Linked DNA regions of Homo sapiens. The protein of the gene in region 1 interacts with the protein of each later gene in a pairwise test. Each region holds a gene or a part of one and is shown on either strand. Other genes may lie near its edges.

Region 1 (3,500 bases):
TATTTGTGTCTCTAAGGAGTCAGATGTGAAGTGGGTGGTGATGGTGGTAGTAAATTTCTGTGTGTTTCTCTGTTAACCCAGGAAAGTATAAATACCATGAGTAACATATATTTATAGCACCTACAGAAGCGGCTCAAATTATTTCTGCAGCAGGTGATACCCTGTCGGTCCCAGCCCCTGCAGTTCAGCCTGAGGAATCTTTAAAAACTGATCACCCTGAAATTGGTGAAGGAAAACCCACACCTGCACTTTCAGGTAATTTAATTATTTCTATTTGTTCTTTTATACATGATACACTCATCAGAACTATTTAATGCCTAGGCAACACGTAGACACTAAGTATACATTTACACTAGGTTTAGGTCTTCAGAGTTTCTTAGGAAATTTTTAAAATTTAAATGTCCGAATGTATCTTTTTAAACAAGAAGATTAAAGCCTGATTCCTATTTCTTCATTTTGGAATCATTAAGAGTAATGATATGGTTTTAGAATTCTTAACACAAAAATGCCCTGCATTGATATAACTGGCCAGTACAAACGATGCTTTTTTTATATCCCTGTTAGCTATTAAAATTCTATGCTGAAATTTGATTTCCTCTTATTTACTTTTGCTGCAAGAAGAAGCATCCTCATCTTCTATAAGGGAGCGACCACCTGAAGAAGTTGCAGCTCGCCTTGCACAACAGGAAAAACAAGAACAAGTTAAAATTGAGTGTATGTAAACCAGACAGCTTCTTAAGGATTTTGGGTCATCTCCCAGTTGCTCTCTTCTTAAACTATCAGCACAAGTTTGTCATCTATCACCTAGTTGTGGTTTCTTTTGTTGCTGCGGTTGTTTTTTAGTGGCATTGCTTTATTCATCACCTTCATTTCATCTAAACTTCTTTTACCTAAGTGACAAAGGCTATTCTTAGTGTATAGTTGGTGAAAACTCCAAATAATACTAAAGATTATGTTAGCGCTAAAGATTCTTTATACTCTGGGAAACAGAAATTGATTATTTATGTTTTAGCAGCTTGCCTAAAAGTCCTTTATTTATTTTTTTGAGATAGGCTCTTTTCTGTCACCCAGACTGGAGTGCGGTGGCACTGTCATGGCTCACTGCAGCCTCAACCTCCCAGGCCAAAGCCATCCTCCCACCTCAGCCTCCTCTGTAGCTGGGACTACAGGCGTGTACCACCATACCCAGCTAATTTTTTAAAAATTTTTTATAGACACAGGCATCTCACTATGTTGCCTAGACTGGTCTCGTACTCCTGGGCTCAAGTGATCCTCCCACCTTGAACTCCCAAAGTGCTGGGATTACAGGCCTGAGCCCTTGTACCCAGCCCTAAGAGTCTTTTATTAATAATTGTTAATTTATACTTGTAAATAATTGTTTATTAATAATTGTAAATTTATTTGTTGGAGTCAGAATGGCTTACACTGCCTTATCATCTAGCCTCTGGACTCTCTAGTAGTGCTTTTATCTGACACTGGTGGGGCATGGAATGTTCTACACATCGCTGGTTTCCAGCTAACAAGCATATTCCTTTTTAAGTTTCAGTTTTATGGTTTTTTTGTTTGTTTGTTTTTAAGAGATGGGCTCTTACTGTGTTGGTCAGGGTAGTGTTGGACTCTTGGCCTCAAGAAATCCTCCCACCTTGGCCTCCCAAAGTGCTGGGATTACAGGCATGAGCTACCACACCTGGCCAAGTTTTTTTTATCATTATTATTATTTTTGCTGTCCTCGGTAGGTCAGGATTCTTAAATTTTTTGATGGTTTAAAAAAGATAATAGATATTTATCAATTTATTTTTCTGTCTTAAAGCACATGTAACATAATTTTTTGTACTGTGCTATAATATGTTGATGTCTCTGGAGGTCGTGGGATGTAGCTTTTTGCTGGACAGAGAGTTCAGTACTCATGGCAGCTGTTTATAGTTTTTTGATCTCCTTGTCATTTGTTTTGCTCCTGTTTCCCTTGTAATGTGCTGGTTCTGCCCTACCCTGAGGAACCAAGTTTCTTAGAATAGCATAGGTGTCATTCTGTGCCTATGGCATTAGTTTTCCTACTTGGATTTGGATTTTCGTTTTTGATTTTTTGTATTCTTCTGATTGTGTTACAAATATTTGTGAATATTTAATAAATGACTTCTAACTAAGTGAAATATTTCATTTTTCCTACTTCTTTTTTCTTTTAGTCCTGTTTTTTCTTCACTTTTCACTTTTCTCTCTTTATCACTTGGGCACCTTGAAATTAAGTTATAAACGTAAGATGGAGATGTCTGCTGTTCCAGCTGTTCTTTTCCTTGCCTGGTTCCTCTCATCTTTCATTTTGGGCAAAGTGAAAATTTTCAGAATTTTATCTGTCACCTCTTAATTCCCCCTCAAACTTGACTTTAAAAATATACACATATGCATTTGCATGTGAAATATTTATCAAGGATCAAAGGACAGTGACTAAACCTCTGAAGAGGGCTGGAAGCAGCAGGTGCCTCCCAGCAGCCCACTTTCTGTGGCCTCCATAAAGTGGTTCACAACTGCCTGTACTTGATGTCCACTGTTCACTCACGCATGTCATGGGATCCAAATACCACGGTTTCTCTCCCTTGCCCCTTTCTCTTGTTGTATCCCCTGCTCTCATTTCACTTCTATCACTTCTGTCAATTTCTTTTTATTTTCTCCTTATTAGTTTTCCTCTTATCTTTCTTGCAGAGGTACCATTTGTAGTTCCTCAGATTCCATTTGTTCATTGCTAGTTTATGCTTCTTTTCCTCAAAATCATCTTTTTTTCTCGCTTGTCAAATACATTTTTTATTTTTTGTCATGTGATATCATTTATTTAATTAATTTGTTTTGAGACAGAGTCTCACTCTGTCACCTAGGCTGGAGTGCAGTGGTGCAATATCGGCTCACTACAACCTCCAACTCCCAGGTTCAAGCGATTTTCCTGCCTCAGCCTCCTGAGTAGCTGGGACTATAGGCACCCACCACCATGTCTGGATAATTTTTGTATTTTTAGTAGAGACGGGGTTTCACAATGTTGGCCAGCCTGGTCTCGAACTCCTGACCTCAGGTGATACACCTGCCTCGGCCTCCCAAAGTGCTGGGATTACAGGCGTGAGCCACTGCGCCGGCCCATTTATTATTAAATTAGTATTCTTACTAGCCGCCTTTCTTCAAATGACCATTTATTTTTGCATTTTAGTAAATTATCTAAAATTGTCATTTGCTTTACTTTTTGGTATTCCCGAAACAGCATATAGAAATGTGATCTTAATAGATGGAAGCCTCTTGAACATTGGTGTCTGCTATTTCTTGAGTCCTTTTATGGAAGAACACTGTCCATTTCAAGTTGCCTTTGGGTTTTGTTTTGTATTTTTTGACCTGTTTTCTTATTTGTCTTTTTCTTTCTCTTGTCTGTTTTCTTGTATCTTGTCAACATAAGTGTTTTGCTATGAGTATTCCTTCTTGCCAAGGGGATGAAATGGGCACCTCTTTTTCCCTGTTACGATTGT
Region 2 (3,500 bases), on another chromosome or scaffold:
TGGCAGATTGCCTTATTAAAAATGAGAAAGATGAAATATGCAATCAATACTTGCTAGAAATGAGAACAGATCAGTCAACCAATAAGAAATTCGTGACAACTCAGAAGATCTGATAAGACTACACTGGACGCTTAATAAAGGGCCTGCGTTTGAGGCCGTGGATTGCCGGCCTGTTCTTCCAGTCATCGTTCCTAACTAACTAACTGCCTACCGGTTCTGTTTTAGGGGCCCATCCTGATGGAGCTGCAGACTTACCGTTACCACGGACACAGTATGAGTGACCCTGGAGTCAGGTACGCTCATGGGCAGTGTGGTTTCCATAGGGGTGGGCTTTGAATGGTGTTACATGGCAAAAGCAACACATTTCAGTATTTGCTTTTGGAGCTAGATACCAGTTCACTTCATGTACGCAGTTGTGTTGGGCATCAAGTTATCTGAAAGCAGTGCCTCCTAATAAGAAAGCTTTCTGAAAATGCCTACAGTGTATAGTGTGTGTGAGCACAAGCAGCAATTTTTAAAGAAAGAGTGTTATATACCTTAATTGTAGAGGGAAATTGTTACATAAAACAGGGCTGATGGTAGTGTAGTATCTTGGGGGCATTTAGCTTTTGTAGGCATTACCCCAAGTCTACACCTGGCATACTCTACCTGAAGAGGATCAGAATTTGGAGATGTTCCTCTGTCTGGTATAGAGCTAAGGGTAACTGGGTGTTCAATCCGTTGAAATACATCAATCAAAAAAGCTAGGTTCCACTAGGAAGGCATGAATTTTACTTTTTTGCTTAGTAGCTCTGGCCTGTGATTCTGGAATCCCAGTTTTGACACAGTTGAATAAATAAGCCTTTGTAGAGTGGACTTCTAAGGAAAAATCATGTAGAGAGCACAGTATATGGAAAAATGCACTTTGTGTAAATCTATTGTTGAAAATGGTAGAATCCTTTTAGTGTTACTTCAGATGATATAGGCATAAGATACATTGGTTTTGCTGGCTGTGCTTCTTTAGGGGGACTTAAGGGAGAAAGGCAAGGCACATGGATTTCCTGCTTGGCGCTCTGATGTCTCAAAGTCTAATTATCACCACACACACCATCTCTGCTGTCCCCACCCATGTAGTATACAGGAGCCCAAATGGGTGGGACAAGTGACACTTCTTTAGAACCTTACATCTAAATCAAAGCAGCAAGCAAAAACTTGGCCCCTGTTGTCGGAATGCCAGGGAAGCCATGTGACTCACCAGTGTACGGTTTTCTAGAAAAGACAGAAGCAGTTATTACAGAATGTTAGGCTGCGTTCTGGTATTTTGAAAGTATAACAACAACTCTGCCACGCCTATAGTGACATAAGCATTGGTATGCCCCTTTGTTTCAGAAACACACTTCTGTATTTCACCTCATTGGGACAATCCAACCCCATATCATGTTTCATCACGCCGTCCTTGCTCTACTGGAACTGCTCTTACTGATCGATTACTACTTTTCCCTCCCCATAGTTACCGTACACGAGAAGAAATTCAGGAAGTAAGAAGTAAGAGTGACCCTATTATGCTTCTCAAGGACAGGATGGTGAACAGCAATCTTGCCAGTGTGGAAGAACTAAAGGTACAGTCACTTGTTCATGGTGGTTTGAAGGTTGGCTTTAAAAGTTGCCACCCCTGGGTGGCCACAGAGTTTGTGTGGGTTCCTCCAAGCCCAGAAAGTGATGTCCTGGGACATAAATAGTTCCATAGTTCCAAAGTCCCTTGGGGTGGGGGCTTTTCCTTTAGTTTCCTCTATTCAAAATTGTATTACTCTTCAGATTTCAGATTTTGGTGGACTGTGAACCACCATCACAGTGGCAAAGCCCCCACAGTAGTATGGTTCTTTTTTCCTAAAAGTATACTGTGGATTTTTAATTCATAAAATAGATACACCCTAGAAATCTGTATTCCAAAATCTTCTGAATTAGCAACTGTTCGTACTTGTAGTTAAAGAGTTACACCAGCAACAGGTCCTCAGCAGAACTCTAGTTGGTACCTAAGCTGCTGTTCATTCTAAAACCTTTTACACTGTTACCTAATTTTTAGGAAATTGATGTGGAAGTGAGGAAGGAGATTGAGGATGCTGCCCAGTTTGCCACGGCCGATCCTGAGCCACCTTTGGAAGAGCTGGGCTACCACATCTACTCCAGCGACCCACCTTTTGAAGTTCGTGGTGCCAATCAGTGGATCAAGTTTAAGTCAGTCAGTTAAGGGGAGGAGAAGGAGAGGTTATACCTTCAGGGGGCTACCAGACAGTGTTCTCAACTTGGTTAAGGAGGAAGAAAACCCAGTCAATGAAATTCAATGAAATTCTTGGAAACTTCCATTAAGTGTGTAGATTGAGCAGGTAGTAATTGCATGCAGTTTGTACATTAGTGCATTAAAAGATGAATTATTGAGTGCTTAAAGATTATTTTTGACTTAAAATAGTATACTTTGAACAAATACTCTAATTATGAAAAGGAAGAACAATTCCTTGTATGCCTGTTTCCCCTGCCCCCAGCCACCTTTTTGGGAGGAGACCATTATGGCGGGGCCCCTCACAGCATTCTACCAACCATAGCACCCACCCCGAGCAGCGCTGGTGCTGCAGCCTGTTCGCGCTGACCATTTCTCTACAAGATACAATATTTATTATCAGGCAAGAGGACAGTTCCATTTTAAAATAAGACTTTTGTAATCATTCCAATTTTGTAATCATTTCAAAGGCCACATAACTTAGTTTTCTCTACTTACACATTCAGTATAAATATGAAGCTATTTTCTGTTCATATCAAACATTAACTACAAGGCACATTCGTATCAGTTTTGTGTTTCTCAAATTGAAGTACCATACCAGTTCTGAGGCAGTGTCCCAGCTTCCATGTTTGTTAAATACCCCTTGTTTGTTTCACCATTCCAGCAAGTGCTGAAGGGTGTACTTTTTTTGAGACAGGGTCGGGCTCTGTTGCCCAGGCTGGAGTGCAGTGGTGTGATCATGGCTCACTGCAGCCTCCACACCTCCTGGGCTCAAGCAATCCTCCCACCTCAGCCTCCTGCATAGCTGGGACTACAAGTGAATTTCCTAATATTCCGGGAGGTCAAAACCAAGGCTCACTGTTTTCACAATACACACAGTTCTATGTTTATAAATAACAGGTTTCAAAAGAAACTCAGGACAGTATTTAAAACAAGTTCTTAAACTATTAATTGAACAATGGCATTTTTAAATATGTAAACACAGCGGAATTCGTGTATACACTAACAGAAGCTTTAACAAAACATGTAGCGTGGTGGGACACTCTGCCACAGCTTAGCTGATTGGTATCAAGCCTTGTCTTTGGTTTCTGAGGCCTCCTGAGCCCTTCTGTACTGGGAGACCGCACTCCAGAGTCTGCAGAGGAGACCACCCCTGGGAAACAAACACAGCTGTCTTCAGAGTCAGTGCTTCAAGCCAACAGAGCTTAAAACTGCAGTCCCTAATTTAAAAACCTAATGAAAATAA
Region 3 (3,500 bases), on another chromosome or scaffold:
ACATGTATATCGATTTCTGTATTACGTATGTATTACATAAAGAAGGTCATACTACATTTCCAATGTTTCTTTAATGTAAACAATATTAACATAAACTTCATTTGAGCACAACTATGTGTTTATAATAATACTTTCGATGACAACTACTGACATTTATTGAATGATAACTATGTGTCAGGCCTAGTTTTAAGCATTTTAATGTATTAACTCATTTAATCCTCATAATAATCTAGGTCCTCATAATAATCTATCATTTTATAGATGAAAAAACTAAGGTATGGTGAGGTTTACTTACCCAAAGTCAAAAAGTAAGTAGTGTACCTGGGATTCAAACCCAGGCAGTCTGAATCTGATTATTTCCTTAATATAAAGTAGAATTTAAGTTGACAGAACCAAAGAGCATGTCTTATATATATGTACTTACATATAGTGTATATAGTATACACTGTCCTCCAGAAATGATGTACTGATTACCAATTCTCCTAACACTGAGAATGAATTTAAGATTAAAAAGTGTATGAACACACATTTTCTGTAGTTTTTAAAAAAATAAAACTTAATATGTGCAGTATAGAAAATTAAGGTAGAGGCTAGGTGTAGTGGCTCAGGCCTCTTATCCCACCACTTTGGGAGGCCGAGGCGGGCGGATCACCTGTGGTCAGGAGTTTGAGACCAGCCTGGTGAAATCCTGTCTCTACTAAAAATACAAAAATTAGCTGGGCATGGTGGCACACAGCTGTAATCCCAGCTACTTGGGAGGCTGAGGCAGGAGAACCGCCTGAACCAAGGAGGCGGAGGTTGCAGGGAGCTGAGATCGTACCTGCACTCCACAGAGCGAGGCTCCATCTCAAAAAAAAAAAAAAAAAAAGAATATTAACATAGAGACTTAACCATTTATCTCACTGAAATATGACTACTATGTATGTTATATACTTTCAAATTTCTTTTCTGTATAATTTAGCACACCTATACACATACACACCCAGGCATATTTTCTAGAAGTAATACTGGCAAAAACAATAAAAATAAGGCTTTTATTTTTATTGTCAAATTTTGGGGGAAGATTAAGCTAATATGAACCCTACACAGTATCTGAGTACTTATTTTTTCCTGACCTAATACTATATCCATGTAAGTATACCTTTTATAAGGTAAAGAAATGGCATCTCATTATTGTTTTAATATGCATTTTCTTTAATATATATTTAGTAGCCATGTGCATGTCTACTTTTGCATAAATTTTTATTTTTATTTTTGCTTTTGAATTTCATTTATGGTGATTTTCAGGCATCCAGATAGTTTGAGCCTTTGTATAATAAAATCATAAGTTGATTTTTTTTTCTTCATAGTTTCTTCATTTGCTTTTGGCTTACAAATATAGTCCCAATCCACATTATTAAATAAATTCATCTACATTTTGTTTTACCAATTTTATGAATTAAATTTTTTTCATTAAAATATACAATCCAGCTTGACTTTATTTTCGCATATGGTGTGAGATAGGCATCTAATAATTTTCATAACAGTTTCTCCTCCATGTATTTTCCAACCTGAATATACATCTGTTTTTATATATTCTATTTTCTTATGATAGATTATTACAAGAAGTTGAATTTCTGCATAAAGATGGGTATATTAGGTTTGAGATGTCCATTGGACATAAAGAGATAATAGAAAGGCAACAGGATATTATGATGAGTCTTTCAAATATTTGTTAGCTATTCTTAGACATTTATCCTTTCTTCGTTACTTTTTTTTTTTAAGAGACAGGGTCTCACTATGTCGTTCAGGGGTTGGAGTGCAGTGGTGCAATCATAGCTTACTGTAGCCTTGAACTCCTGGCTCAAGCAATCCTCCCACCTCAGCCTCCCAAGTAGCTAGGACTACAGGTGTTTGCCACCATGCCCAACTAATTCTTAAAATTTTTTTTGTAGAGACAAGCTGTGTTGCCCAGGCTAGTCGTGAACTCCTGGGCTTAAGCAATCCACCAGCCTCAGCCTCCCAAAAGCGCTGGAATTACAGGTATGAGCTACCTCATCAGCTCTTTTATCCTTTCAGATAAACTTTACAAATGTTTTTCTGAATTTGCCACAAAAAATCTTGAAATTCTGATTGAAATGTTTTTCAACATTACAAGTTAAATACCCCAAGTATGTGTTTTATTAAATAAATTTATATCCATATATAAATTTACCTCAATATATATACATATTTACTATATCTCCCTATATAGATATATATAAAACTGGTGGAAAATGGGTAAATTTTTATGAGGGGGGTTTTCATATTTATACAAAACATATATTACTTTTTTGCTTAGAGATAATCTCCCTACCCCAAATAATATTATTTTTAAAAAATCAATAAAAGTACATTCAGAGGAAAAAGAAATGATGAAAGTAACAGACTATTTCTTGAGGTTCCTTCATTTTTTTTTTTTTGAGATGGAGTTTTGCTCTTGTCACCCAGGCTGGAGTGCGATGGCACGATTTTGGCTCATTGCAACCTCCGCTTCCTGGATTCAAGTGATTCTCCTGCCTCAGCCTCCAGAATAGCTGGGATTACAGGCCCCCACCACCATGCCTGGCTAATTTGTTCTATTTTTACTAGAGACGGGGTTTCACCATGTTTGCCAGGCTGGTCTCGAACTCCTGACCTCAGGTGATCCACCCCCTCAGCCTCCAAAAGTGCTGGGATTACAGGCCTGAGCTACCGTGCCCAGCCGAGGTTCCTTCAGTTTAAAAAATTTAATCATTTTGATGTATCAGGGAAAACAGCTATTCAGCATTTGAAGGTTTCATAAGTTAACATTCTAAATAAATAAGATGTAAAACAGATTTTCTCAATTTTAAAAATTACAAAAAACTAAACATTTGGCAATAAATAATAAAACATACTCTATAATGAGAAAGAACCTGACCCAAGGAACTTAGGTCACAATATATATTACAATTTCATATAAGAAGAAATGGACAATTGTACCTCTGTTGAGTGCTCCGTACTCTGTGTGGAACACTCCAACTAGTTTTGTGTAGCCTAGATTGACATGAGCATGAACTGCCCTTTTAAATGCATCACCCCACAGAGCTGGCCCACCAGGTTTCATCTGAAAAGTGGCCAGTTCATAGACTCCTGGAATAGGGAGAAAAAGAATTTTTCAGAAAACATTCAAGCAATATCCAATCACGTTTCTCAGTGAATAGTCTTTCACTATCTACACACACAGATTTGGAGGATCAGACATGCATACATATTATGTAGACATGTTTATTATATTTGCACTCTCTGCTTTTATGCTTAGAAAGTCCTTGCCCATGTTTAAGAGTGAGTTGTTATGCTTAATCATACAGATGACAAAGAAAAAGAACTGGAAGCTATTATAACTATTATCTGAAATATTTTTAATCTATAACATTTGTTAAAAAACTGTTGAGAATGTATAATGATATAGAATTTTGAGCTGCAAAAGTCTATGCTTTTAGAAAATAAAAGAATAAAAG
Region 4 (3,500 bases), on another chromosome or scaffold:
TGGTGGCTCTGTCACCAGCTGGCCCTTCCCCATGGTGCTGCTGGATATTGTCTTAAGGAATGAGGGGGAGGGGCTGAAGACTAGATGTGAGAACTTTTGTAAACTCAGGCCATAGTAGAGGGAATTGTAATCCAACTTGGTATCCATGCCAGGGAGGAAGAGACTAAGACTGGAGGAGCCGCCGACTATTTCCTTGAGCTTTCTGACTTCTTGTCTCTATAGCCTACCGTGAAATATGAGACTCAGCCACGGTTTATCACAGCCACTGGAGGCACCCTGCACATGTATCAGTTGGAAGGGCTGAACTGGCTACGCTTCTCCTGGGCCCAGGGCACTGACACCATTCTAGCTGATGAGATGGGGCTAGGCAAGACCATACAAACCATCGTCTTCCTCTACTCACTCTACAAGGAGGTGCTGGATTCTAGGACCTTGAAGGGGACCGCCTGGACTGGGGAAGTGGGGAGGGGGAAGATAAAGGGGTGTAGCTGGCAGAGGACTAGGGTATACGGCCTCTAGCCTAGACTTATGCTGCCCCCATTCTTGACTCCCAGGGCCACACAAAAGGTCCCTTCCTGGTGAGTGCCCCACTCTCTACCATCATTAACTGGGAGCGGGAGTTCCAGATGTGGGCACCCAAATTCTATGTGGTGACATACACGGGTGACAAGGACAGCCGGGCCATCATTCGTGAGAATGAATTCTCCTTTGAGGACAATGCCATCAAAGGGGGCAAGAAAGCTTTTAAGATGAAGGTAAGACCCTCTACCTCATATCCTCTGAGACCCTCAAAGCTGTCACTTCTTTTTCTCAGCCAGGAATTCAGTTTCTCTATTCCCCTCCTCACCTTTCTCCTCTTCCTCCACCTGTCCTCCTGTCTCTGCACTACCATCCTAGAGATATGGCAGGTACTCCCAGGGGCATACATGGATCTGTCGGTACTGGAAATGTGGGCAGAGGTTTAGGAGCCATGGTCTGTAATCCCTGCTTGGAGAACAGAGTAATGGCTCCTGTTGGGAGCCACAGTCAGGACAAGGTGTCTGGTTCTGGAGGTGTAGGTGCATGGTTGTCAGGTGGCAGCTGAATGGGCAATAATTATGTTGGCAGAGGGAGGCACAGGTGAAGTTCCATGTTCTCCTGACATCGTATGAGCTGATCACCATTGATCAGGCAGCACTTGGTTCCATCCGCTGGGCCTGTCTTGTGGTAGATGAGGCCCATCGACTCAAGAACAACCAGTCCAAGGTGAGTGAGGTTTCCAGACCTAAAAAACTTGAAGTTGTGGACTTCCCACTTGCCTTGGTCCTAAAAAACAACAAAAATTCTGGGGATTTTCTGTAGTCTGGGAGGACGTCCAGGTTGGAAGAGGGAGAGGGCCAGAGATTTGGGGCCTCTGATCCTGAGTGAAATGGGAGCTGGGGCAGGGAAAGGCTGATGCTGTGGGTCGGTCACTTGTCACTAATAAGCCCATTTTCCTGCCTTGCCTTGCCCCATCTTTTAGTTTTTCAGGGTTCTCAATGGTTACAAGATAGATCATAAGTTGCTGCTGACAGGAACCCCATTGCAGAATAATCTGGAGGAGCTCTTCCATCTCCTGAACTTCCTCACCCCAGAGAGATTTAAGTAAGTGGTTCCCTAAGGGTAGTTGGCAGAGATGAGAGGTGGAGCAGATAAAATGAGCTGGTAGAGGATTAATCTGAGGTGGTAAGTCTGAGATCAGGGGCAAGGAACTTGCCGACCTGTTAATTTTCTTCTCTTCTGGCTCTTAGCAACTTGGAGGGCTTCCTGGAGGAGTTTGCTGACATATCCAAAGAGGACCAGATCAAGAAACTGCATGATTTGCTGGGGCCACACATGCTGCGGAGACTCAAGGCAGATGTCTTTAAGAACATGCCAGCCAAGACAGAGCTCATCGTTCGGGTGGAGCTAAGCCCCATGCAGAAGTAAGATGCAAGACGAGCTGCCTGGAGTAGGGCTTGGGGATTGATGGGAGCGTTCCAAGTGCAATATCATAATTGCTTCCTTTATTTATGTTTCTTTTACACCCCTTTCCTGGCCTTTAGGAAATACTACAAATACATCCTGACTCGAAATTTTGAGGCCTTGAATTCACGAGGTGGTGGGAACCAGGTGTCGCTGCTTAATATCATGATGGATCTTAAGAAGTGCTGCAACCATCCATACCTTTTTCCCGTGGCTGCTATGGTAGATACACAGAGCAGGGAGCTGATCGAACGCCCATTCTCAGAAAACATGGGTGGGGAGTAGTGGGGAGGTGGGTATTGAGCCACAGGGGTGGAGCTGGGCTGGAAGGCCACGGACTGGGTGTCTGAGAACAGGAGGAATTGGGAACATGTGGAAGCTGGATCCGGGCATCTGGCCTTCTAGGTGTGGCAAGAATATGGGGGCATGTTTCCAACTGACCCCCTCCTCCTCCTCTCTCCTCCCTTTTCAGGAGTCCCCCAAACTCCCCAGTGGGGCTTATGAGGGTGGGGCACTTATTAAGTCGTCTGGGAAGCTCATGCTGCTCCAGAAGATGCTGCGAAAGCTGAAGGAGCAAGGACACCGAGTGCTCATCTTCTCGCAGGTGACCTGTGCCCTTAGCTGTCTTTACATCTGCTTCCTCTTCCCTCTCCTCATCCTCCAGACTTTAATTTCTTACGGTCTTCCTGTGGCTGCTCTGGTGTGACAAATGAGGAGATTCCTCCTGTAAGAGTTTTTTTTTTTTTTTTTTTTTTTGAGACAGAGTTTCGCTCTTATTGCCCAGGCTGGAGTGCAGTGGCACGATCTCGGCTCACTGCAACCTCTGCTTCCTGGGTTCAAGTGATTCTCCTGCCTCAGCCTCCCAAGTAGCTGGGATTACAGGCGTGCACCACCATGCCTAGCTAATTTTTGTATTTTTAGTAGAGACGGGATTTCACCATGTTGGTCAGGATGGTCTCCATCACCTGACCTCAGGTGATCTGCCCGCCTCGGTCTCCCAAAGTGCTGGGATTACTGTATAGCAAGTTCATTCTTGGCCTCTGATGCCTGTTCTTAAGGTTGCTGGAAGTTGAGGTCCAGCTCTAGTTCCTTTTCAGCTGCATGAGGGAAGGGGGAGGGTGAGCCATCTGCCTCCTTAGGGACTGGTATTATTTCTTCATCTTATTGGCAGGTGAGGGTGAAGGGCACAGACCCTTTGGAAATGTGATGAAAGCTCTGGGTCTACTCACCAGAAAACTGCACATACAATGACACAATTTTGTACGGATTTTCAGGGGGTTCCTGGATTTCCCTGAAACCTTTTCATGGGTCTCAGAGAACCTCTGCCTTAGGAGAAACAATCTTAAATCAAGAGAGTGTGACAAGAGGGCCAGACGTGGTGGCTCACACCTGTAATCCCAGCACTTTGGGAGGCCGAGGCAGGAAGATCACTTGAGGTCAGGAGTTTCAAGACCAGCCTGGCCAACATGGTGAAACCCTGTCTCTACTTAAAATACAAAAATTAGCTGGGCGTGGTG
Region 5 (3,500 bases), on another chromosome or scaffold:
CGTCTGCTTTAAAGTGCAAAATAGATGAGGACTCCCTGCAGTTTCATTCTAAATAGTGTACTTCTATATTTAATGTATGCAGTCCAGGGACTTCTTAGTTATTTTAGTGGCCACATTACACTGTTAAATCATATTAGAATTTTCAGCCCAATTCAGAGCTTTAAAGAGTCAATCGAGTATTGGGCATGGGTAATTACTGTCCTACCTGCCTTTGAGCAAATAATGCATTAATTACTTGGCATGACATACTAATGACCTTTATTGATCAACTTTGTAAAATTTTTATTTTTTTATTGACAAAAATTGTATAGGCGATCATTTACATGGTTATGTCTCAATAAACCTATATTATAAGTCAAAAATGCATTTAATACACCTCACTTACCAAATAGCTTAACTGAACCTGCTTTAAATGTGCTCAGAAAACTTCCATTAGTCTACAGTTGGGCAAAATCTTACACAAAGCCTATTTTTATAATACAGTGTTGAATATTCATCTCATGTAATTCAAGTAGCATTGAATACACTTCTGAAAGTGAAAAACAGGTTGTGGCCGGGCACAGTAGCTCATGCCTGTAATCCTAGCATTTTGGGAGGCCAAGGCAGGTGGATCACTTGAGGTCAAGAGTTCAAGACCAGCTTGGTCAACATAGTGAAACCCCATCTCTACTAAAAAATACAAAAATTAGCTGGGCGTGGTGGCGTGCACCTGTAGTCCCAGATACTCGGGAGGCTGAGGCATGAGAATTGCTTGAACCCAGGAGGCGAAGACTGCAGCAAGCTGAGATTGGACCACTGCACTCCAGCCTGGGCAACAGAGTGAGACTCCCTCTCAAAAAAAAAAAAAAGAAAAACAGGGCCAGGCACAGTGGCTTACGCCTGTAATCCTAGCACTTTGGGAGGTCGAGGCAGGCAGCTCACAAGGTCAAGAGATCGAGACCATCCTGGCCAACCTGGTGAAACCCTGTCTCTACTAAAAATACAAAAATTAGCTGGGCGTGGTGGTGCATGCCTGTAGTCCCAATTACTTGGGAGGCTGAGGCAGGAGAATCGCTTGAACCCGGGAGGCAGGTTGCAATTAGCTGAGATCACGCCATTACACTTCAGCCTGGCAACAGAGCAAGACTCTGTCTCAAAAAAGAAAAAAGAAAAACAGGTGGTAAGTGTACTTGAAATATGGATTCTACTAAATGCAAATCACTTTCACATCATTGTAAACTCAAAAACTTACAAGTCAAACTGTCATACATTGGGGACCATCTATATATTTATTACATACAACTTGATGTTTTGATACATACATTGATCTGTTCTTATATATGTATATTTTCTTACACAAATGTCTCTGAATACCAATCTCTTTAAAATGTTAGGTAATTAGGTGGGGCACGGTGGCTCACGCCTATAATCCCAGCATTTTGGGAGGCTCAGGTGGGCGGATCACTTGAGGTCAGGAGTTCGAGACCAGCCTGGCCAACCGGGTGAAACCCCATCTCTACTAAAAATAAAAAATTAGCCAGGTATGGTGGTGCACACCTGTAATCCCAGCTACTCGGGAGGCTGAGGCAGGAGAATCGCTTGAACCCTGGAGGCAGAGGTTGCAGTGAGCCCAATTCAGAACTGTAAAGAGTTGCAGTGAGGCAAGATTGCGCCACTGCACTCCAGCCTGGGTGACAGAGTGATACTCCATGTTAAATAAATAAAATGTTAGGTAGTTAACTCTGCTAACCTCAAAAGGAAAAATGCTTAACCAGTACCTCTTCTACTCTTAGGGTATTTTACTGGATGAAGCCTCAGGTGTAAACAAGAATCAACAGCCTGTCCTCCCTGCCGGCTTGCAGGTCCCCAAAACGGTAGTGTCCAGCTGGAACCGTAAGGTGAGGGCTTTTCAGATTAACTAGAGCTCTTGATGTCAGCTTCATAACAGAGATTTTGCTCATTCTAACATGCATTTCTGTTCTAATTTATTAGAGAACTGGCCACTGTCTCCTTTAGTTTGTTCTCATAAACATACACAAACTAATTACACCCTCTTCTTCTCTTTCTGGAGACCTCTACATGCACATACATTCTTAAATGAATGAATGACCTTTGCGATGTTCTTGTCTCCTCAGAAGTCATAAATTGGAATTTACTTTTCTAATTCATCAAGTTGCTGTGTTATAAAGTATTTGTATTCATTGATCATAGGCAGCAGAATATGGCAAAAAAGCAAAATCTGAAACTTTCCGGCTGCTTCATGCAAAAAATATCATCCGACCTCAGCTCAAGTTTCGAGAGAAGATTGACAATTCCAACACACCATTTCTTCCTAAAATCTTCATCAAACCCAATGCTCAGAAACCTCTCCCTCAAGGTAAATAGTGCATACTTTGCCTGTGTTTGAGTCTCACTTTATTTGATGCAAAAACCAGGAAGGGTGTACAGGTCTCTCTTCTTTGTTCAAAGGGAGCCCACCCTCCTTTGTTCAAAGGGAGCCCAGTTCAGCTATTCCAGAGGCTGAAGTGGGAGGATCACTTGAGCCCAGGAGGTCAAGGCTACAGTGAGCTGTGCTTGTGCCACCACACTTCAGCCTGGGGGACAGAACATGACCCTGTCTCAAAAAAAAAAGCCAAAAAACAAAGGGAACCAGTTTACCCCTGTGTAATTAGAAAAGACATGAATGTGCTAATGATGTTTTTGTCACTGCTGGGATCCCCAGCTCTCTCTAAGGAAAGGCGGGAACGCCCACAGGATCGTCCTGAGGACTTGGACGTCCCCCCTGCACTGGCTGATTTCATCCATCAGCAGAGAACCCAGCAGGTTGAGCAAGACATGTAAGTGTTGGCCTGTGTCTGACTTTCTGCCGTGAGTACTTACCTTTTTGCCACATTTTCACTTTTGTGGAGTATATACATGAAAACAATCTGAGGAGTAGTGATTTCCTCCTTACACCCCAACCTGGGCCTTAGCAATAAAACCTGCTGTTTGTGTTCACAAAGGGCCTACACAGCATTGCCTCATGTAAACCTCACTGCAGTCCTGAGAAGTAGCAGTTGCTCTTATTCCCATTTTATAGATGTAAAACACGAAGGCTGGGCGCGGTGGCTTACGCCTGTAATCCCAGCACTTTGGGAGGCTGAGACCGGTGGATCACCTGAGGTCAGGAGTTCGAGACCAGCCTGGCCAACATGGTGAAACCCCATCTCTACTGAAAATACAAAAATTAGCCAGGCGAGGTGGTGTGTGCCTGTAATCCCAGCTACTCGGGAGGCTGAGGCAGGAGAATCGCTTGAACTTGGGAGGTGGAGGTTGCAGTGAGCCAAGATGGCGTCACTGCACTCCAGCCTGAGTGATAGAGTAAGACTCCATCTCAAAAAAAAAAAAAAAAAAAGATGTAAAAGCAAAATTAGAGATGCAGGCTTCTTGTAGAGTTGGAACTTCTTTGAGACAGGGTCTTGCTCTGTCGCCCAGACTGGAGTGTGGTGGCATGAACACAGCTCACTACAGCCTTTACCTCC
Region 6 (4,067 bases), on another chromosome or scaffold:
TCCCAGCTGTTTGGGAGGCTGAGGCAAGAGAATCACTTGAACCCAGGAAGCAGAAGTTGCAGTGAGCGGGGAGATTGTGCCACTGCACTCCAGCCTGGGGGACAGAGAGAGGGCCGTCTCAAAAAAAAAAAAAAAAAAAGTACACCTTAATCTGGTTTCAAGGTGCAAGATCTGCACCTATCCTTCCATTTAAGTTTCATCAAACCGCTGCTACCTCCCCGTCTCCCACACAATTTATGGGACTTCTAAGTTCCCTCTAAAGGGTCCGAACACCTACACTGGTAACAAGCCACCTGGATTTGAATCCTGGCAAGACAACTTACTATCTGACCTTGGACATTGTGCTGTTCTTAACCTCTCCGTGCCTCGGTTTCCTCATGTGTATGAATAACATCAACACCTACATCAAAGTTTGCTGTATTAAATTTGATAATATATGCAAAGCATTTAGAAAAGTGCCTAGCTCATAGAAAGCCTTATGTAAATATTAACTATCATTTTTTTTCTTTTTTGGGGTGGTGGGGGAGGGGTTTCGCTTTTGTTGCCCAGGCTGGCGTGCAATGGCACGATCTCGGCTCACCACAACCTCGGCCTCCCGGGTTCAAGCGATTCTCCTGCCTCAGCCTCCCGAGTACCTGGGATTACAGGCATGCACCACCACGCCCGGGTAATTTTGTATTTTTAGTGGAGACGGGGTTTCTCCATGTTGGTCAGGCTGATCTCAAACTCCCGACCTCAGGTGATCCGCCCGCCTCGGCCTCCCAAAGTGCTGGGATTACAAGCGTGAAGCACCTCGCCCGGCCTAGCTATCATTTTTATACAAGTGCTGGGTTTTGGGAGAATGTAATGATGGCTTTTTTCTTACTAAACTTTCAGTGCAGGAGGAGGAGAAAGAAAGTAAATAGTTATATGAACACAGTAGAAAGTCAAAGTGGAAAACAAAAAGAACATAGAACCCAGGTGAGCGGTCCAGACCTCCCCCCAGAAACCTAAGAATCCATAGAAATGGGTGGGAAGCGGAGAAGATCCTCCAGACAGCAGGTGGCGATGTAGCATCCCCCAGAAGGCCCGCTAACAGAAGCTAGGAGGACGCGCTACCAAGGTCACGTGTCCCCGGCGTTCACTCGCTCTTCGCTTCACGACACTCGCATCCTCACGGGTGATTGGTCTGCGTGCGGCACGTGGGCGGGGTACCGGGGCGGGCCGGGGAGGGGCGGGGTGGGCGGAGGAGAGGGGCAGGGGGCGGAGCTGGAGGGGGTGGTTCGGCGTGGGGGCCGTTGGCTCCAGACAAATAAACATGGAGTCCATCTTCCACGAGAAAGTGAGTGTCCGCGTTCGGTGGGGAGCTGTCTGCCGCGCGGTGGCGGGCGTGGAGCGCGGCATCACCGCCTCTCGGAGGGCTGGGTGGGGCCCGAGTCGCCCCCATGCCGATCTCGCCCGGCGAGGGGCGACGCCGCAGCCTCCCGCCTCCTCGGCTCGAGGAGGGGAGCATCACCTACGCCCCTACTTCCCCCGCGGCCCCCGCCCTGGGAGCCGGGAGGGAGTATGGGCGGGGCCGGGGGCGTCTCGGGACACGGGAGTGGGGTGGCGCCCAGTGGGTTTGCTTCTGCCTTTCTCCGTCACTTTCCATCGCTTTTCGGAGGATTCCTTCACCCCTCCCCAATCCTTCCCTCTCCCTAGGGTCTAGCTAGAGTCATCTCTGGGACACCTCCCTCAACCCCTCCTACCCTAATCCTGGCAGAATTAACTTTTCCTCCTCCGGACTGCTCAATTCTATATTGGAGTCTTCCCTACACGTAGATCTTTGGGGTCTTGTTCGTGTCTTTCCCCTGCACTAGGTCCGCGAGCCTCCCGAGGGAGGAGACCTTGGCTCGCCCACTGTAGGGCCTGACATTTAGGAAGTGAAGTAGGAAACCCGGCGTGCCCCTAAACAGGGAAGTCGTCACAAGAGTTTTTATTACGGGATGTTTGGGTTTGGTTTCTTTTGGTACTCCCATCTTTCCGGAGCAGGCGGCCAGCTTTGTTTTTAGGTATTAGGAGTGGACTGGGATGATTTTGTTGTAGTCTGCCTAGCCTGCTGTCCCTTTAACTCTTCCGTGACCATGCACTTGAAGATACTGTTTGTGATATGTAAAGAAACTCCTCGTTTCTCTCATACTATTATCCAGCCATTTGTGTGTGAGTGAAGCCTTCCCCAGGACAGCTTTGGCACATGGTATCATGTTTCATAATAGTTTCGTGTTTGGAAAGAGTTGCTGGTAAGGCTGTTATTTAATAGGAGGAGCAAAGGGTTTTTGTTTTATTAAATACTTATAAATGATCATTTATCCCAGACATTTAAAATTCACACACACACAACAAATAAAGCAAAGACAAAAGAATACATTTACCAAATGTAAATCTGTAGCATAAATTTTTTTTAATTTTTATTTTAAAGATGGGGTCTCATTCTGTCACCCAGGCAGGTGTGCAATGGAGAGATCATGGCTCACTGCAGCCTTGATCTCCTAGGCACAAGCGATCCTCCCGCCTCTGCCTCCAGAGTAGCTGGGACTACAGGTGCATATCGCCAGGGCCAGGTAATGTTTTTGGGAGAGACGGGGTCTCGCTGTGTTGCCCAGGCTGGTCTCGAACTCCTGGACTCAGGTGATTCTCCCACCTCGGCCTCTCGAAGTGCTGTGATTACAGGCGTGAGCCACTGTGCCTGGAACAAATTGTTAAGTACAATGCTTTTCATTGTAGAAAACATCTCGGAAACTTTTGAAATAGGCTGATGTTCAGTGGGGGAGGAAGGACTCAGTCGTATAGTTGTCACTAATTTTTTGACTTGATTGACATGACTCGTAAATCATAGACAATAGAGATTTGGTTGCTTGGCTGAGTAGAGTGCGTGAAAAATACACACGTACTTTTTTTTTTTTTTTTTTGAGATGGAGTTTGGCTCTTGTCACCCAGGCTGGAGTGCAATGGCGCCATCATGGCTCACTGCAACCTCCGCCTCCCCGTTCAAGCGATTCTCCTGCCTCAGTCTCCCCAGTAGCTGAGATTACAGGCGCCCGCCACCACGCCCAGCTAATTTTTGTATTTTTAGTAGAGACAGGGTTTCACCATGTTGGCCAGGCTGGTCTCCAACTCCTGACAGGTGGTCCGCCCGCCTCGGCCTCCCAAAGTGCTGGGATTACAGGCGTGAGCCACCGCACCCGGCCATATTTTTGTTATTAATTTTCAAAGGCTTTGGTGTGGGACCACATTTCAACATGGAAGGCCTTAAACATGTTCCACACTACTTCCTGAGAATTAGACAAGATTTTTAACAATATTGTTACCTAGTTGGGACACATTTGTACTGACCCATGGGATGAAAAAAAGCTGAGTGCTAGCCTAGTGAAAATCTACTTACCCGAAAGAAATCCCTCTTAGTCTGGGTGCAGTGGCTCACACCAGTGCTTTGGGAGGCCCAGACGGGCGGATCATGAGGTCAGTAGTTTGAGACCAGCCTGGCCAACATGGTGAAACCCCGTCTCTACTAAAAATACAAAAAATTAGCCAGGTGTGGTGGCAGGCGCCTGTAATCCCAGGTACTCTGGAGGCTGAGGCAGGAGAATTGCTTGAACCCGAGAGGCAGAGGTTGCAGTGAGCCGAGACCGTGCCACTGCACTTCAGCCTGGGCAACAGAGCGAGACTCCGTCTCAAAAAAAAGAAAAGGAAAAAAGAGTCCCTCTTAATTATCAGCATGTGTATAGGCCTACAGATACTTCAGGAATACCTTTACCATTATCATCAACTTGTATCTACATAGCATGTGAAGATTCAACAATTTAGTTTTTTGGGCGTCCTCAAGAGTACGCACCTATAACCATATGGCCCAATTGTTAATCTCCTATACAGTCCATTCTGGGAATGTTTGGGCTTACTGTGCCATTTTTCCGTTCACTGCCTTCCCCTCTGCAATATACCTTTAACCCTTGCTAGGTCCTGGGTTTGGAGAGCCAGAGAACCAACTTTGGCCCTAAAGAAGCTGTGTAGGTAGCAATATCTGCCTACGAAGGGCCTTGCAACCATTTCCT
Region 7 (4,060 bases), on another chromosome or scaffold:
ACTCCCCTTGCCCCTTGACCTGCTCCTTCCTTATGGAGGGGCCTCCTCTCTTACTTGGTGACCCACACCCCCACTTCTGGGTGCTTTTGCTCTTGGTTGCACCCTGCCGACAATCCCGGTGTCAGGAGTCCTCTGCAGGCACAGCAGTGATGAGGGACAGTCCCTACCTTCCCCCACCTAGGAGTAATAATATGACCACTGCAAAGTCACCCAGAAAAGACCATAAAAACCTCAAGCTCAGCCGGGCGCGATGGCTCATGCTTGTAATCCCAGCACTTTGGGAGGCTGAGGTAGGAGGATCATGAGCTCAGGAGTTGGAGACCAGTTTGGCCAACATGGTGAAACCCCGTCTCTACTAAAAATACAAAAATTAGCCAGGTGTGGTGGCACGAGCCTGTAGTCCCAGCTACTCAGGAGGCTGAGGCAGGAGAATTGCTTGAATCCGGGAGGTGGAGGTTGCAGTGAGCCGAGATCGCCACTGCACTCCAACCTGGGCGACAGAGCAAGGCTCCGTGTCAAAAAAAAAAAAGTAAAAAGTAAAATTAAAACCTCAAGTTCTCGAAGAGCAGGAAAGCATTCTAAATCCGCGCTCCAGCTCACCTGGCCTGGAACGAAGCTGCTAAAATTGCGAGGCCGCAGGCTTCAAACTTGCGCTAGATTTGACCGAGCCGGGCAAATGCTCCTAGGCCTTTGGGATAGACACGCTGCTCGGATGTCGCGTAAAGGCCGTTAGTGTCGGGGGTTGCACTCGCGGGGCCAGGGACTAGGTGGGGGCGGTCGGGCCGGCCCGGGGAATCCGGTGGGGTTCAGGGCCGCGCGGGGGGCCTCATATCCCCCGCGGGCACTGCGTAAGGCTGCCAGCATTGGCAGCGCATTTTGGCCAACAGTCGAAGACGGGTTGGGACGCCCCCTCGTGGGAGTTCTGGGGATGGGTTGCTCCAGGCCTTCCCCAGGGCCGCGCTTCACTTCCCTAGGCCACCGGAGACTCCCAGGCCACGCGGTGGTCAGCAGACCCTGTCTGGAGGGAGGGGACAGACAGCCGAGTCCGGGAGGGGGCAGAGAGCGGAGTCCAGCCTGGAGCCTCGCGTCCCCTTCCCAGCTGGCCCCATCCCGTCGCCTCCCCGTCTCCTCTCCCCTCCAGGGCTCGCAACAACCCCCAACTCCGCTCCCTGCCCTCTGCGGTGGTCCTAACAGAAGGCACTGTCGCCCTCCTTAAGCCCTCGGCGCTTTGCGACACTGGCCCCTGTCCCCAGAACCCGCACAGCCTGCCAGGCGCAGGGAGGGAGCAGGGTCCCATTTCCAGCCGAGACCCGGAGCTGCTGGAAGGGAGATGTCCGGAGGACGGGAGAAGGGGGATAGGGTTGGGGGCAGTGCCGCCTCCCGCTGGGGGCGTGTTCCTGAGGCCCCGCCCGGGGCCCCGCCTTTTTTGCGCCGGCTGTGACAAGCGCTGCGGCATTTGTCCCCGCGACAGCACCGCTGCCGCCGTCTCTAAGGTCGCCCGGGTCCCACCGCCGCCACCATGCCTCGGGGAAGCCGCAGCGCGGCCTCCCGGCCAGCCAGGTGTGAGGGGGACAAGGGCCCTGTGGGGAGGGGGTTAGGGAAGTGTGGGCACTCCCCTAAGGGCGTCCGCAGAGTGACCTTGGCTGCTGCTGCGCCATCTTGGCGGGGGGAGGGGTGGGGGTGCAGCACCCACGTGTGGAGACGTGGGTCGTCCATCTCTCCGGGGGTCGTTTCCAGGAGCTGCAGCCCTCCAGCCTGGGGTCTGGCCAGGATTAACCCTGCTTCCTCCCACCCCCGCAGCCGCCCAGCCGCGCCCTCTGCCCACCCGCCCGCGCACCCACCGCCCTCGGCAGCCGCCCCAGCCCCCGCCCCTTCGGGCCAGCCGGGGCTCATGGCTCAGATGGCGACCACGGCCGCAGGGGTAGCCGTGGGCTCGGCTGTGGGACACGTCATGGGCAGCGCCCTGACCGGAGCCTTCAGCGGGGGGAGCTCGGAGCCCTCCCAGCCTGCTGTCCAGCAGGTGAGCAGCGAGTCCAAGAGAAACTGAGGCAGGATTATCTCGAGGCCACACAGGGAGCTGCCCAAGTGTCCAGTGAGGAGTGTCCGCGTGTATTCACCATTGCTTCAGCCCAGGACTCTGCCCGGGAAGGGTCCTAGTCCACTGGTCTTGAGTTCACTGTCACTTAGAGGCAGGCTTCCCGGCCTCTCCCTTGAGGCCAGGGTCCCTAAGCTCCCAGGGAGAGACACCAACCAGCCCTTTAAAGATGGGAAACCCAGGCCCTGAGGGCTCAGAGACTCGCCCAAGGTCACCTCACCCTAGCAGAGGGGAGGGATGTTGGATTTCCTGAGCCCCTGTTCTCCCCACACCCAGGTCTGGGCACTGTGGCCGCTGGGCGCAAGGGCGAAGGGGAGCCACTTCCCTGATGACCTTTCCCCTGCTAGGAACCCCACCGCCGTAAGCCAAATGTGGCTTTGTGGCTAGGTCAGGGGTCATGAGGATTAGTGTAGCTGAGCCAGGAAGGTGCTAGAACTTGTGGGGGTGGGGCTCATACTCTGAGAGTACAGGCAGAGTACTGGGCTTTCCTAGAGCCTTCTCCTCCCTCTCCTGCACCCGCCCAAAGTGCCCATTAGAAGGCAGCAGAGGCCAGGCGCAGTGGCTCATGCCTGTAATCCCAGCACTTTGGGAGGCCAAGGCGGGTGGATCATGAGTTCAGGAGTTCGATACCAGCCTGGCCAACATAGTGAAACCCCCTCTCTACTAAAAATACAAAAAATTTGTTGGGCATGGTGGCGGGCGCCTGTAGCCCCAGCTACTTGGGAGGCCAAGGCAGGACAACCACTTGAACCCGGGAGGCGGAGGTTGCAGTGAGCCGAGACTGCGCCGCTGCACTCCACTCTAGGTGACAGAGTGAGACTCTGTCTCAAAAAAAAAAAAAAAAAAAGGCAGCAGAAACATGCTGTCTGTAGCCGCCTCTGCTGCTGGATCACTCAGCCTGCCTAGGACCCTTGGGACACCCAGGCTGGGGATGTGGGGAGGGGCAGGTGGCCCCAGGTTTGAAACGCACCTCCAGGTGCCAACTCCAAGCTGATCCTGCAGCCTCTTGCACTGTACCCCCAGGCCCCCACCCCCGCTGCCCCCCAGCCCCTGCAGATGGGGCCCTGCGCCTACGAGATCAGGCAGTTCCTGGACTGTTCCACCACTCAGAGTGACCTGTCCCTGTGTGAGGGCTTCAGCGAGGCCCTGAAGCAGTGCAAGTACTACCATGGTGAGTGAGTGGACCCCGACTCAGGCGGGGAGGGGGAGAGGCCAACCCTCCTCTTGCACCTGCAGGCTGACCACCAGCCTGTGCTGCCCCTCCCTTCCCAGGTCTGAGCTCCCTGCCCTGAAGAGGTCGGTGCAGACTCGGGGGCCAGTCCTGCACCCACCTCTACCCCTCGCCGACAGCCAGACCACAACACCAGATTGTACCCAGATAGCTGGGATTGGAAGTGAGGAGGTTTCTCACCCCACAGATAACCCAAGACACAAATGTGCAATTAAAAGTTTATTTTAGACCACAGCCTGTTGTGTGCCTCTCTCGATGGCCTGTCTTCAGGGAGCTCCCTGGCTGATGAGGTGGGGTCAGGATGGATGTCTCACTACAGTGTGCAATCCATCCCCTTAATCAGGGCCCTGGGTGGGGAGGAGGAGCCCTGTTGCAATCTGCACTGTGGGTAGCACAGGACAGATTCCTTGGGCAGTCCAGAGTGAGGTGGAGAGGCATTAGTCGGTGATCCCAAGGGCATCTGACTCTGAGGGTGGAATCCCAGGATGAACCCATGGTCTCCCCCTTATCAGGGATACCTGCCACCTCTACCCTTCTTGTCTCTACCTCTGCATCCCATTCTCTGCACCCACAGCTTAGGTGCCCCTGGCGGCCTCAAATCCTGTCTGACCTTGCCCCTCTTGCTGATGCAACTTCTCAGCAATTCCAGATTCTGCAAGAGGAGTCCTGCTGGGTTGTTGTCTGTTTGCACCTGATCACACAAGGCAGAGGTCATGGCTAACCCCCTTGGGTCT

What was found.
Region 2: the proteins of IMMT (region 1) and PDHA1 interact in binary tests that used the Homo sapiens proteins (3 or more experiments, as listed by UniProt).
Region 3: the proteins of IMMT (region 1) and NIPSNAP3A interact in a two-hybrid assay, tested with the Homo sapiens proteins (one large-scale study listed by BioGRID and IntAct).
Region 4: the proteins of IMMT (region 1) and CHD3 interact in a two-hybrid assay, tested with the Homo sapiens proteins (2 studies listed by BioGRID and IntAct).
Region 5: the proteins of IMMT (region 1) and EXOSC10 interact in a two-hybrid assay, tested with the Homo sapiens proteins (one large-scale study listed by BioGRID).
Region 6: the proteins of IMMT (region 1) and ATXN3 interact in binary tests that used the Homo sapiens proteins (3 or more experiments, as listed by UniProt).
Region 7: the proteins of IMMT (region 1) and CHCHD10 interact in binary tests that used the Homo sapiens proteins (3 or more experiments, as listed by UniProt).

The regions. Positions count from the first base shown.
Region 1 is NC_000002.12:86,167,963-86,171,462, reverse strand, and holds part of IMMT (MICOS complex subunit MIC60), read left to right. Parts: intron 1-81; exon of another isoform or gene 82-117; coding exon 118-255; intron 256-618; coding exon 619-714; coding exon of another isoform or gene 715-722; exon of another isoform or gene 723-2,150; intron 2,151-3,500. UniProt on the Homo sapiens protein: Component of the MICOS complex, a large protein complex of the mitochondrial inner membrane that plays crucial roles in the maintenance of crista junctions, inner membrane architecture, and formation of contact sites to the outer membrane.
Region 2 is NC_000023.11:19,357,427-19,360,926, forward strand, and holds part of PDHA1 (pyruvate dehydrogenase E1 component subunit alpha, somatic form, mitochondrial isoform 1 precursor), read left to right. Parts: intron 1-225; coding exon 226-293; intron 294-1,489; coding exon 1,490-1,598; intron 1,599-2,062; coding exon 2,063-2,227; 3' UTR 2,228-3,322; coding exon of another isoform or gene 3,323-3,407; 3' UTR 3,408-3,500. Other genes in the region: MAP3K15 (mitogen-activated protein kinase kinase kinase 15), read right to left, coding at 3,323-3,407. UniProt on the Homo sapiens protein: The pyruvate dehydrogenase complex catalyzes the overall conversion of pyruvate to acetyl-CoA and CO(2), and thereby links the glycolytic pathway to the tricarboxylic cycle.
Region 3 is NC_000009.12:104,754,183-104,757,682, reverse strand, and holds part of NIPSNAP3A (protein NipSnap homolog 3A), read right to left. Parts: intron 3,133-3,500; coding exon 2,983-3,132; intron 1-2,982.
Region 4 is NC_000017.11:7,898,789-7,902,288, forward strand, and holds part of CHD3 (chromodomain-helicase-DNA-binding protein 3), read left to right. Parts: intron 1-222; coding exon 223-414; intron 415-554; coding exon 555-755; intron 756-1,107; coding exon 1,108-1,245; intron 1,246-1,501; coding exon 1,502-1,623; intron 1,624-1,769; coding exon 1,770-1,943; intron 1,944-2,063; coding exon 2,064-2,205; intron 2,206-2,455; coding exon 2,456-2,587; intron 2,588-3,500.
Region 5 is NC_000001.11:11,089,870-11,093,369, reverse strand, and holds part of EXOSC10 (exosome complex component 10), read left to right. Parts: intron 1-1,772; coding exon 1,773-1,877; intron 1,878-2,190; coding exon 2,191-2,356; intron 2,357-2,701; coding exon 2,702-2,816; intron 2,817-3,500. UniProt on the Homo sapiens protein: Catalytic component of the RNA exosome complex which has 3'->5' exoribonuclease activity and participates in a multitude of cellular RNA processing and degradation events.
Region 6 is NC_000014.9:92,103,783-92,107,849, reverse strand, and holds the start of ATXN3 (ataxin-3 reference isoform), read left to right. Parts: upstream 1-1,267; 5' UTR 1,268-1,297; coding exon 1,298-1,321; intron 1,322-4,067. UniProt on the Homo sapiens protein: Deubiquitinating enzyme involved in protein homeostasis maintenance, transcription, cytoskeleton regulation, myogenesis and degradation of misfolded chaperone substrates.
Region 7 is NC_000022.11:23,765,334-23,769,393, reverse strand, and holds CHCHD10 (coiled-coil-helix-coiled-coil-helix domain-containing protein 10, mitochondrial isoform b precursor), read left to right. Parts: upstream 1-1,421; 5' UTR 1,422-1,519; coding exon 1,520-1,560; intron 1,561-1,800; coding exon 1,801-2,020; intron 2,021-3,097; coding exon of another isoform or gene 3,098-3,118; coding exon 3,119-3,266; intron 3,267-3,367; coding exon 3,368-3,387; 3' UTR 3,388-3,560; downstream 3,561-4,060. Other genes in the region: uncharacterized protein C22orf15, read right to left, coding at 3,835-4,060. UniProt on the Homo sapiens protein: May be involved in the maintenance of mitochondrial organization and mitochondrial cristae structure.